Regions from separate parts of the Homo sapiens genome. Here all the other regions are reported to be linked to region 1. The links are microRNA targets in miRTarBase. Many come from high-throughput screens and were not tested one by one. Region 1 holds a microRNA gene; each other region holds the end of a gene's coding sequence. Distances are between the middles of the regions.

What was found. The annotated mature microRNA hsa-miR-619-3p reads GACCUGGACAUGUUUGUGCCCAGU and lies in region 1 at 1,743-1,766, opposite strand. An mRNA with a match to its seed (bases 2 to 7 or 8) in the 3' UTR can be bound and repressed. Matches are read on the target gene's strand: a 7mer-m8 pairs with bases 2 to 8, a 7mer-A1 pairs with bases 2 to 7 and ends in A, and an 8mer does both.
Region 2: the mRNA of KCTD10 is a reported target of hsa-miR-619-3p. The part of its 3' UTR that is shown has no 7-base or 8-base seed match.
Region 3: the mRNA of SLC10A6 is a reported target of hsa-miR-619-3p. The part of its 3' UTR that is shown has no 7-base or 8-base seed match.
Region 4: miRTarBase lists RNF216 as a target of hsa-miR-619-3p. Seed matches in the 3' UTR shown: 7mer-A1 at 2,265-2,271.

The regions. Positions count from the first base shown.
Region 1 is chr12:108,835,181-108,838,337 of GRCh38, forward strand. It overlaps MIR619 (microRNA 619), which reads right to left and starts at 1,826; the gene lies at 1,728-1,826. The region is part of intron 2 of SSH1 (slingshot protein phosphatase 1); the gene reads right to left. RefSeq lists an enhancer at 2,682-3,157.
Region 2 is chr12:109,449,178-109,452,334 of GRCh38, forward strand. It overlaps KCTD10 (potassium channel tetramerization domain containing 10), which reads right to left. Exons shown (of 7, transcript NM_031954.5): 7 at 1-2,636. The coding sequence ends at 2,418. Among named protein-coding and RNA genes, the nearest start is that of KCTD10, 27 kb to the right of the region's middle.
Region 3 is chr4:86,820,902-86,824,058 of GRCh38, reverse strand. It overlaps SLC10A6 (solute carrier family 10 member 6), which reads left to right. Exons shown (of 6, transcript NM_197965.3): 6 at 157-591. The coding sequence ends at 371. Among named protein-coding and RNA genes, the nearest start is that of SLC10A6, 27 kb to the left of the region's middle.
Region 4 is chr7:5,620,417-5,623,573 of GRCh38, reverse strand. RNF216 (ring finger protein 216) reads left to right here. Exons shown (of 17, transcript NM_207111.4): 17 at 395-3,157. The coding sequence ends at 714. Among named protein-coding and RNA genes, the nearest start is that of FSCN1, 29 kb to the right of the region's middle.

The DNA of each region.
Region 1 (3,157 bases):
CACCAATAACATCTTCGTTGAGCGCTATGCTAAGCACATCAGGTATGTTAACTCATTTATTCCCCAGTGTCCATCTCTCAGTGTTTTATACATACGGGAACTGAGGCTCAATTAGCCGAGCGTGGTGTCGTGCTCCTGTAATCCCAGCTATTGGGAGGCACAAGAATCACTCGAACCCAGGAGATGGAGGTTGCAGTGAGCCGAGATTGTGCCACAGCACTGCAACAGAGTAAGACTCCGTCTTAAAAAAACAAAAAAACAGAAAACAAAACAAACAAACACTGAGGCTCAGGGAGGTTAAGTCACCTGCCCAAGTTCATGAGACCAAGGAGCCGGGAAGCAGGAAGGGGAAGGCAGGAGTGTAACTCTGAAACCTCTGCTCTTAGGCACTGGCTTTCAGCTGAACTGATACCTCTGGAAAACAGTCTCAAAAAAGTCCACTTCTCCTCCCAACAATTCAGACCTAAAAACCATTTGGCGGGGAAGGGCAGGGCAAGCTTCTGAGTTGGGGAGGGGGTGTGGGATCCCAAGCTGAGGTGTCTGTTGGCAAGCAGGGTGCAAAGGGCATCTGTGCAGGGAGGGGGCTGCAAGGGAGACAGAGACTGCTCACAGGCAAGGAATGAAATATTAAACATTAATGTTAATATTAATATTTATAATTAATATATTTATGATATATAGCATATATACATATTATATTAATTAATTATAACTATATTAATATAATTAATTATAACTATATTAATATAATCAATTATAACTATATTAATATAATCGATTATAACTATATTAATATAATCGATTATAACTATATTAATATAATCGATTATAACTATATTAATATAATCGATTATATTAATATTAATATAATCAATATTAACAAATATATACTATATAATATAAATAATACCTAAGTTTATATAATATGCATAATGTTAATATTTATTAATATTTCAGGGACAATGGGAGTCATGAATATGGAGAGACAAAACTAGAATGAACCCCAAGGTGCTGCATCAGAATTGAAGGTACCAGTCTGAACTCATAGTTTTCAACCTATTGAAATAAATATAGATGCACGTGTGTGTGTATGCACGTACATACAAATGTTCCCTAATTCTGCCCATTGAGAGGCCTGTGGTTAGCAACACCCCAACAGCAATAAGCAGACCTAGCTTGGCTCCTAAATTTCATTTTCCACTAAAAGGAACCAGAGCCCCTTGGATAAAGGACTGATTCCACAGGTGGGTAGGGAGCATCTGTTGCCAGAAAGCAAGAAAGCACTTAAAGAATGATGTGGACATGTCAAAGGGACACAGAAGCCAGCCTGGATGAGATCCCACTGGCCCTAACTGTCCACAAGGACAATTTGAGCAAGGATGTCAACAATTTAAGAGCAGATTATAAACCACTGAATAAAACAGAAAAATACAAAGAATTGAAACGGACATTGATGGCAGACAGGATATTAACATAATTTTAAAGTATCTCTCCAAGGAATGCTTCTGAATGATGAAGGGGAAAAGAATAACTGTACAGTGGAAAAGCCTGGTAAAACCCACCTTAGTGACCAAAGTGAATGTCACCATAGTGGGACAAAAGGAAATCAAGTGCCACCTTATGGGATTCAACGAGGACGCAGCATCCCTTGGGTGATGTTCCAGCCAAATACACGTGCCCGGTGGAATCACACAAGAACATCAGACACACTCACACTGAGGGACACTCTGCAAACTGACAGTACTGGGCACAAACATGTCCAGGTCATGGTCGACCGCAGTGGCTCATGCCTGTAATCCCAGCATTTTGGGAGGCTGAGGTGGGCGGATCACTTGAGGTCAGGGGTTCGAGACCAGCCTGGCCAACATGGCAACACCCTATTCTCTACTAAAAATACAAAAATTAGCCGAGCGTGGTGGAGCATGCCCGTAATCCCAGCTACTTGGGGCGCTAAGGCACAAGAATCGCTTGAACCCGGGAGGTGGAGGTTGCAGCGAGCTGAGATATCACCGCTGCACTCCAGCTTGGGCGACAGAGTGAGTTTCCAACTCAAAAAATAAAAAAATAAAATAAAATCCAGGCCACAAGAGTCAAAGAAAGACTGAGGAAGGTTCCAGACTGCAGGAGAGCCAAGAGACAGGATAACTAGATGCAATGGGCAGTCCTGAATTGGATCTTTTGTTATGAAGGACAACGCTGGGACATATGGTGACTCTTGAATGGGGTTAGAGGACTAGACGGTGGGAATGCATCAGAGTCAGTGTCCCGCGTGGATGGCTGTGTTGCGGTTCTGTGGGAGAATGCCCTGGTCTGTATTCCAAGGGTAATGGAGTAGCAGGTTGACAAATTACTTTCAAATGGTTCAAAAAAGAAAGTTCTTTTCACTGTACTTGCAATTCTTATGTAAGCTGGAAATTATCTCAAAATTAACGAGAATTTTTTATCGACGTAGTATTTTACATATTTATGGAAAACATGTAAGTATTTGTTACATGCATAAACTGTGTAATGACCAAGTCAGAGTATCTGGGGTATCCATGACCTTGAGTATTAATCATTTGTATGTGTTGGGAGCATTACAAGTTTTCGAGTTACCAATTTTTTTTTTTTTCCTTTGAGACAGGGTCTTACTCTGTCGCCCAGGCTGGAGTGCAGTGGGACGACCACGGCTCACGCAGCACAGCCTCCACCTCCCAGGCTCAAGCGATCCTTCCACCTCAACCACCCAAGTAGCTGGGACTACAGGTGTGTGCTGCCACCCCCAGCTAATTTTTTAATTTTTTTGTAGAGACAGGGTCTCACTATGCTGCCAGGGCTGGTACTGAACTCCTAGGCTCAAGAGATCCTCCCACCTCGGTCTCCCAAAGTGCTGGGATCATAGGCATGAGCCACCATACCCAGCCAAATTTTTTAAAGTTATTTTTTAAATCTCCACTTAATTCGATTTTGGTAAAACACGACCTGTAATTTTTCTTTATCGGTAGGTAATAAAAGCTTCAGATGATTTTACTGATCACTGGTATGGGCATATTTCATGACTTTGCCCTTTCATCTCTTGCATAGTTTTACCCTCACCAAGCAAGACCTTCCCTGCCTCAGCACTGTTTGCCCTCTTCGTGTTTTCCAGAACAGAAGTGGCCCTGTTTCGTGCCCAGAG
Region 2 (3,157 bases), 610 kb from region 1:
AAATCAGTTCCTTGTATACTCAATAACAGAGCTTGGACCAGCCAATGCTGTCTATTCACTCATGGCTATAATGCAGCCGACAGAATTGTTCACCATGGAATGTTTTATAAACCTGTTCATATTCCAGAGAGACAAAGACTCAAAACTACAAGTGCAAAGTTGGGTAGAGAGAGCTGCCAGAAACACTAGCTCATTAGGCATAGAGGCCACAGCAAATCAAATTGTTCCACAAACTCATTCTTCACACAAACATTTAAAACACTATGCAGCCAGGTGTGGTGACTCACACCTGTAATCCCAGCACTTTGGGAGGCCAAGGTGGTCGGATCACAGGGTCAGGAGTTCAAGACCAGCCTGGCCAACATGGTGAAACCCCATCTCTACTAAAAATACAAAATTAGCTGGGCATGGGCTGATGGGTACCTGCAATCCCAGCTACTCGGGAGGCTGAGGCAGCAGAATCGCTTGAACCCAGGAGGCACAAGTTGTGGTAAGTGGAGATGGTGCCACTACACTCCAGCCTGGCCAATAGAGCAAGACTCCGCCTCAAAAAAAAATTTATACAATGGCTTTTCCATTTTCCTGGCCAACATTCACTTCGACTTTCTAAAAAAGCTCAACCCAAAAGAAAGACAGGGTTGGTGTTTAACACTTAAACAGTATAAAATATTTACGAAACATTTTGTAAGCCCTCTTTCCTTAGCACTTAATAAAATCCAAATGGCCTAATATAAAAGTTTCTCACACGACAGTTTAAAAAGCATCTGCCCAATACACGATTTTGACATTCAGTCATGATTGTTTTAAAGTTTTATTGTAGACTTTGCTGTTGGATACAAAATGAAGGCATACAACTGTCACAGGCAGGGCAGTAAGTACAAAGTCTAAGCTGTAAAAACCGTTTGAAAATATAAACTCGTTTTTGGAATACATGTGTCAAAGGCTGCCCATGTTAATACCTTTGGTATAAAACGGTAACGATTCCCTTGACAAACCCATCCATCACCTGACGCACATTCACATCTCCTGGTAACTACTCTACCTAGTCTAGTCTCAACCACCCCTGTCAGTCACGACTCACTCCTGTTCCTTTGCAGGTGCAGAGGAGCCTGGGAGGTAGGTCACTGAGAACACCCGTCCTACATAGGCGCTGCGCCCAGCCGGGCTCCAGCAGGGGCCGCCACCTGTGCCCCACAAGCACACGTCCCCACCCACAGTCACACATATCCCTTAAACAAACATGAACACAGACACAAACCAGACCCAAAGTTATCTATCTACCCGCACATCCTCAACCTGTTCACTGCTGGCCACTCTACACTGTGTAAAAATCAGAGGCAAAGACAAGGGGGTCTGTGTTTATAGCAGGGAAGCTCCCTGGGGCTGGTGGTGTGAGGGTGTCCCTGCCTGGATGCCAGGCTGGGAGGACAAAGGGTATGGGCCACACTGAATTTCTAAGCAAAATGACTTAGAAAGTTAGCCCAGCTTCATGGGGAAGGAGGCTGAAGAGGAGCGGGATCCCAGGGAGGGGTAGTTTATGAGCTATGCCTGTCACAGGGTCAGATGGCCTTCCTGGAGTGGAGTCGGGTCAATCAGGAGAACAACTGGACGGGGCTGGAGTTGGGGAAAGAACCAGAAACAGAGCTGGACACTTACTGCCATGGAAAGTTCTGCTCCTACGCAGACATATGGGGTCCCAGTGAGCACCAGGCCAAAGACCAGCCCAAGGTGGCAAAAGGCTTGATCCCTAAACAAAGCCTTGCACCCAAAGTTGCACTGGTCTCAACGATTTAGACGCTCATTCAGCCATATTTCCACTGCCACAAGCTGCAATTATCAACAAGCTCTAGGCCCAAAGCCACATGGCAGAAAGCACGTCTAGCAAAGCAGTGGGGATTGTGCCCGGGCCAAACACACAGGAACCAGGAGTGGACCTGCTGGGGCTGGAGGATTATGAAATAGGAAGCAGGGAGCTCAGATACCTCTGGTGGCCTCCAACTGCAGGACAACTCTCAGAATTGTCAAACTGAACCCTTAAGGGAGTGTCACCCAAAAAGCCCACATAGGAAGTCGACACCCACAAAAATAAATATTGCAAACAAAAGTTCTCACATACACTTCACACTCATTCATACTTTTCCTCTGAGAACCGAGAAAGCCTGGCTCCAAAGAGTCTCAGATTCTCATGAAAAGTAGAGATCTTAGACACAGCTTGTTCAACGACAGGGGTCATACGCCTGGGTCAAGACAATCAATTTGCCTTGTCAAGCAATACCAAAATAATCATCTGGCTTGTTACAAAAGTATCTCCAGGCTCCAAGGGAAGCAGAAGGGGCCCGGCAGCCTGCACAGGATCTGGGTGTAGCACGGCAGGGAGTGGGGGCGGTGAGAGGAGGGCGGCTCGGTCTCTTGCCTGCTCACTGGTGGAGGTGGGCCCGGTCATCAGGGCGCTTGATGTGGATCCTCCGCACGCGCTCGATCCGCTCCCGCTCCTCGTCCTCGTCCAGGTGGTGGGAGCGCCCCGCCGCCCCGCCTGTGGCCTCCAGGAGCGCATTGTCAGGTCCCCGGCCATCCTGGGCCTCATACAGCAAAATGTTCAGGGTCTCCTCATAAATCCGGGCTTCGGGAAACTCCACCTGTGTTCCCACAGTATACAGGGCAGGTAAGTTATGGCCCACCCCCTCTGCCAACACCTGGACTTTAAGCAGGGCCGCCAGGCTAAATCAGGCCCCTGGGATTCTGCTGAAGGCCACCAGTATTATTTTTAAATAAACTGATATTTTCAATGGCAACACTTACATGTGGTGCTAAATGCACAGAAAATCAAGGGGATGCAGAGAAACAGGTCTCCCTGCCCCTAGTTTCCCTTCTTAAAGGTACAGTTTCTCATCATTTTACCCTCTCAAAGATTCTGTGCATGTAAATATGTGTAATACACATATTTATTCACACACTTCAAAAAACACACAAGGTGGCCCACCACACAGAGTTGTACATGTCTTCCTCTTGTGCCTAACTTAACCTAGAGATCATTCTGTATCAAGGAATTATAAATACGACAATGCAATTAACCATACTTGGATGGCCATTTAGGTCAGTGCTAATATGCTTCTCCTAACAGAGCTGCAACCTTGCACAGAAGTCCTTCCACACCTTA
Region 3 (3,157 bases), not on the chromosome of region 1:
CTATAGCTTTCTCTCTTTCCCCCTTCTTTTCCCTGGGTGTTTATACATACATGATGCCACTGAAACAAACACCTGAAGGATTGACAAGTGTACAGTGTCACCAAATTAGACTCTTTGTTAAAGTGATTGTTAATACTTGTATGTTTTAACACCTAGCATATCAGACGTACAAGAGGAGATTGAAGAACAAACATGGAAAAAAGAACTCAGGTTGCACAGAAGTCTGCCATACGAGGAAATCGACTTCTTCCAGAGAGACCAATGCCTTCTTGGAGGTGAATGAAGAAGGTGCCATCACTCCTGGGCCACCAGGGCCAATGGATTGCCACAGGGCTCTCGAGCCAGTTGGCCACATCACTTCATGTGAATAGCAGGGACTAGCTGGCTGGACTGGCCCCCTTCTTTTTCAGTGGCCAGTAAAGACAGTGTGCAGCTGACACATGAATCTTGTTGGTAGGGCCAGTGTGAATATTTAAGTGTTCAATGTTAGAATATTTATATTTTCATGTGGATTGTGAATTGTGATGGGATCACTTTTGGAGATTCCCATTTCAGGGAGTTTCTTCTGGGGGTTAACATAACGTATCAATGAGCTGCCTTGTATGTTCTTGTCTTCCCATGCAGCAAATAGTACCTGGCAGTAGGTAAAATCCTTCATTAGGGGAACTTATCCTTATGTTGTGGATTTTTTTTTTTTGAGACAGAGTCTTGCTCTGTTGCCCAGGCTGGAGTGCAGTGGCACAATCTCGGCTCACCACAACCTCCGCCTCCTGGGTTCAAGTGATTCCCTTGCCTCAGCCTCCCAAGTAGCTGGGATCACAGGTGTGTGCCACCATGCCTGGCTAATATTTTGTATTTTAGTAGAGATGGGGTTTCACCATGTTGGCCAGTCTGGTTTCGAACTCCTGGTCTCAAGTGATCTGCCCGCCTCAGCCTCCCAAAGTGCTGGGATTACAGGCATGAGCCACTGCGCCCAGCCACGTTGTGGATTTTAATTGAACAAGAGTTAGAACTCTAAGTAGAGGAGATGTCACCTCATACTGCAGGGTGACGCAGACCTATGTGACTTCTTGACTCTGGGCAGGTCCTCAGGTGCACTGAGAGGAGAACAAATAGCTCTTATAATAAATGGGGCAGTTTTCTCAAATGATTATTATTTTTAAGAAATTGAAAATCATTTTGATTATAGATGTAACACAAGCTTGGAAAGAATTTAAAACACACATACGGTTAAAAATGGAATGCCCTGTATTTTCACTTTCTAAAGATTGACACATGGTTGGGCACAGTGGCTCATGCCTGTAATCCCAGCACTTTGGGAGGCTGAGGTGGGCAGATCACCTGAGGTCAGGAGTTCAAGACCAGTCTGGCCAACATGGTGAAACCCCATCTCTACTAAAAATACAAAAATTAGCCAGTCATGGTGGCATGCACCTGTAATCCCAGCTACTTGGGAGGCTGTGGCAGAAGAATCACTTGAACCCAGGAGGCAGAGGTTGCAGTGAGCTGAGATCACGCCACTGCGCTCCAGCCTGGGTGACAGAGTAAGACTCTGACTCAAAAAAAAAAAGAAAGACCCATGTGTATCCTTCTAAGCTGTGTATGTAAACTGTATCATTTTAAGAACCTTGAGATCATTCCATATATTGTTTTGTAAGTCACTTGATGACACATTATGGAACATCTTTGAGTGTCAGTCTGTGTTGACCTACCTCATTCTTTAGTATAGTAGTGATGTGGAAGTATTCTATTGTGTGGAAGGACTGTAATTTATTTAACCACTCCTTATTCATGGACACTTAGATAGCTTTCAGCTTAACAGTATTACAGTGCTGTTACAAACACTTTTGCCTTTAGGTGCAAGTATTTCTGTAGGCTCACTTCCTGTGACTTGAATTTCCAAGCCAATTGCTTACCGAAATGTATGACAGATTGCTATCTGGCAACGTTGTACAGCAGTGCCTGAGAGGGCCTGGTTTCCCACAGTCTCACCAGTCAAATGAATGATCAATTTTGATTGGTTAAAACATCTCATTTAAAATTTCATTTAGGCTGGGCGCGGTGGCTCACGCCTGTAATCCCAGCACTTTGGGAGGCCGAGGCGGGTGGATCACGAGGTCAGGAGATCGAGACCATCCTGGCTAACACGGTGAAATCCTGTCTCTACTAAAAATACAAGAAATTAGCCTGGTGTGGTGGCGGGCGCCTGTAGTCCCAGCTACTCTGGAGGCTGAGGCAGGAGAATGGCGTGAACCCAGGAGGCGGAGGTTGCAGTGAGCCGAGATCATGCCACTGCACTCCAGCCTGGGCAACAGAGCGAAACTCCATCTCAAAAAAAAACAAAAAACAAAAAACAAAATTTCATTTAAAAACTGAATGAACTAAAGCATTTTTCACAATCACTTGGCAACTTATGTCCTTTGCCTGCTTTTCTATTGTATCTTTTCCTTTTTGATGTATAGATTTTGAACCATAATGATAAGTGACAATGTGTCCTATGTTTTGTCAACATTTTACCTACTCGTTTATCTTTTGTTACTCTATGTCTTTTGCAATACAGAGTTTTATTTTTTTAATATATTCAGCTTATTAATCTTATTAAGAATGTTTTTTTTTTGCTCTGATCTCTGCCAAATGTTAGCATATTTATATATTTGTGTGGATTGTGAATTGTGATAGAATCTTTTTTTGAGAATGTATTTGGCCCCTTTTCAGGGAGTTCTTTCTGGGGGCTTACACAACATATTTACTAGCTGCTGTGTGTACTTCTTGTCTTCCCATGCAATACATGATGCCTGGCAGTAGGTAAATCTGTCCTCTACTAGAAATTATTAAAAATATTTTCCCATATGTTTTTCTAATACTGTGATGGAGCAAATACATACATACTTATTCCATTTTGAATTTTTCCTGTATGGCATAATAATCTAATTTTTTTATAGTTAATTATCCAAACATCATATATTGAATCATTATTCTTTTATCTACTGATTTGAAATGCTACCCTTATCACATAACTTCCTATATAATGTGTTTTTGTTGGGACTCTGGTTCCATTTTGTGTCTATTCTTATTTGTAAGTTTTGAAATGTGTGAGAAAGTGTTTTGAGATTTAATGTTTATAATGTTATTTTGTAAGTATTCCCAATAACTTGTG
Region 4 (3,157 bases), not on the chromosome of region 1:
CAATCCCAGCACTCGGGAGGGTGAGGCAGGTGGATCAGTTGAGCCCAGGAGTTTGAGACCAGCCCGGGCAACATGGCAAAACCCCATCTATTAAAAAAAAAAAAAAAAGTAACTGAGTCACTGAGGTGGCCCATCAAGGCCCTGGCTCTGAAGGATGTCTGGCTGGGTGGGTGGACGTGCCACCTTCCAAGGTGCCACTGTGGAGCAAGACACTGGTGGAAGTACAGATTTGTTCTTGGTTTCTTGCAGTGGCATTTGGGAGGTGTCCACGTTTTGTGCTTTGATCAGCATGTGGAGCCACTCCCGTGTCCAGAGGTCGCTGCCCTGGTCCCAGGCTAGATTCCATTGAGGTTGGTTTAATGTTTTTCTCCACTAATCCCCACATCCCTTTCAGAGAACACCTTCAAACGCATTGGACCCCCGCTGGAGAAGCCTGTGGAGAAGGTGCAGAGGGTGGAGGCCCTCCCGAGGCCCGTTCCGCAGAACCTGCCACAGCCACAGATGCCACCCTATGCCTTCGCGCACCCACCCTTCCCCCTGCCTCCCGTGCGGCCTGTGTTCAACAACTTCCCACTCAACATGGGGCCTATCCCAGCCCCGTACGTGCCCCCTCTGCCCAACGTGCGGGTCAACTATGACTTCGGTCCCATCCACATGCCCCTGGAGCACAACCTGCCCATGCACTTTGGCCCCCAGCCGCGGCATCGCTTCTGATGGCCCCGAATCCCCATTGAGCAGCACAAAGCCCGTTTGGGGTAGGAGTGTGGATGGAGAACCCTCCCCCAAGGCTGGTGTCTGTACCATTGCATCCTAAGTCAGCTTGAAGGGTAGGCTGGTTTTCTTCCCACCCCTTTCCTAGAAGGGCTACTGCTCCTGGAAGAGTGGACGGATCCATAATAAAGACGTCCCAAATGGTGGAGTTCGGAGAGAGCTGCGATGTGAACTGCCCCTCCCCTCGCATCCCCCAGGCCACCAACGGCAGTCCTTCTGCCTTGTCCATGGCATAGGCCATAGACCAGGTCCCTGCTGCTCACACCTGGGCCTCTCCTCGGAGCCGACCCCTGGGTAGCAAGGCAGCCGAGAGCATCTCCCTGGAGGGGCCCACGGTTGGGCCAAGGGCAGAGGGGGCTGCACCTGCGGGCCTGGGAAGCATTGCTCAGGGTGGGGGGCTGGGACCATGGCCCGCAGAGGCACTGCCACAGCTGTGAGGGCCAAGATGCTGTCCCCCCATCCAAAACCCGTGCGCCACTGCAGTGAGTGTTGAGGGCACCTCTCCTCCCCTCTTACACCTACTCAGATGAGGCAGCAGCAGACCCATCTCGCGGCGGGGGTTTTGTTCTGTTGCCGCCTAACTTTCTCATCCTCGGTCTCTGGAAAGTCAGGCTGAGAAATCCTTTCCCAGGCCAGGCCGCTGCGGTACACTGGATGGTTCTGAAGCTGGCCCATTGAAAGAGCCTCTTAAGGCAGCTGGGACAGAGGCCTGGTGGCCCTGCTGGGCAGCCCAACTGCTGGGGGAGACGTTTCTGCCACCCTGGGTGATGAGCAGCTTTTCCCCCCTGGCTTTCTGGGGGAGGAGTGGGCCTCCTTAGGGAGACAGGTGACCCTGGGTGCCACCCCTGCCCCGTGTGTGCCCCGGGTGTTCTCAGTGGTTGCTGAAGGCAGGTAGAGGGTGCTGTCCAGTATCCCCCATGTGAAGGTCACTTCCCTTCTCATGGAGTCAGCTGAGCATCAGCTCAGCCCTGCCATGTCCCCACTCACCCTCCTCGCCTCCTGTCCGGCCCTGGGTTTCTAGCGGTGCCTGAGGCATCACTCTGGCCCATTGACAGATGAGAGGTCTGAAGCCTTCCTGGCCACAGGCATCACTTTCTCCTCCTCCTCATGCCCTGCCTTGTCCTTGTCGTGTTGCCATGGGGTTCTGAGAGGCTGGGAGTTCACAGACCTCAGACACAGCTGAGTCCGACAACCATTGGGGTGGGGCTGCATCAGTCTCCGGAGTGGCCCGCCACCTCCTGAAGCAGGGCCTGGCCCACCCAAGGTGCCTGGGGCAGGCGGGCACCGTCATTCGCTGCCATTGGCTTCTCAGATGTATTTCAAGGACTAAAGTGGGCTCTAAGATCTAAGATGGCCCGGCGCGGTGGCTCCCGCCTGTAATCCCAGCACTTTGGGAGGCCGAGGCGGGCGGATGAGTTGAGGTCGGGAGTTTGAGTCCCCGTCTCTACTAAAAATACAAAATTAGCCGGACAAGGTGGCGCATGCCTATAATCCCAGGTACTCAGGAGGCTGAGGCAGGAGAATCACTTGAACCTGGGAGGCAGAGGTTGCAGTGAGCCAAGATTGTGCCACTGCACTCCAGCCTGAGCAACAAAAGCAAAACTCTATCTTTAAAAAAAAAAAAAAAAAAACTAAGATACCCATTCTTTCTGCCTTTGCCCAGGATGGAGGCTTTGAAGACAGGTGGTCACCTGGACCTGGGGTAAGGGTGCGCAGGGAGGCCGGGCTTGGGGGCAGCCTGCTGCTATGTCCTTGCTGGCGCCCATACCTGTTGGACTGCCTGAACTTTGCTACTAGCCTGAACGACAGTGCCTTGGAAAGGCAGGCTCCATGCGGCAGCAACAGGATTGTCTTCGGTACCTTAAATATGCTCCCTGTGCTTCCCCAGGGAGGATCTCTGGGAGCAGAGGGCGGCTGTAGACATCACAGCTGAAGAGGTGACCTCAGGCCCTGGGAGCCTCAGCTCCCTCTGCCCTGTACCCTAGGCACGTGGCTCCAGCAAGAGCCCCAGGCAGGACAAAGGGAGCAGGCAGCAGCTGCAGAAACAGCCCTAGACAGGTGCTGGCCTCAACCCTGGCAGGGGAGGGGGAGCCCAGAGTGATGTTTCTCCTAAGGCCAAACCCCAGGGGTGGGTCATTTGAGAGGAGTTCCAGCTGTTCTGGCCACACTGGGCTGGTGGGGAAGGAGCGGCGGCCTCTTTCCTTGGAGGGTCCCTGATTCCTGAGGATCCTCCCCGAGCCAGGCACGGGGGACCACAGGGCTGCCGTGAGCACCCACCCTGGTTCTCCAGGCCCCTCTGTCCAGAGGCAGGGCCTGAACCTCGGGCTCCTGCCTGGACCAGTGACAGCATTGGGGAGAGAAGCACTGGGGGTCTTCAGACCAGCCA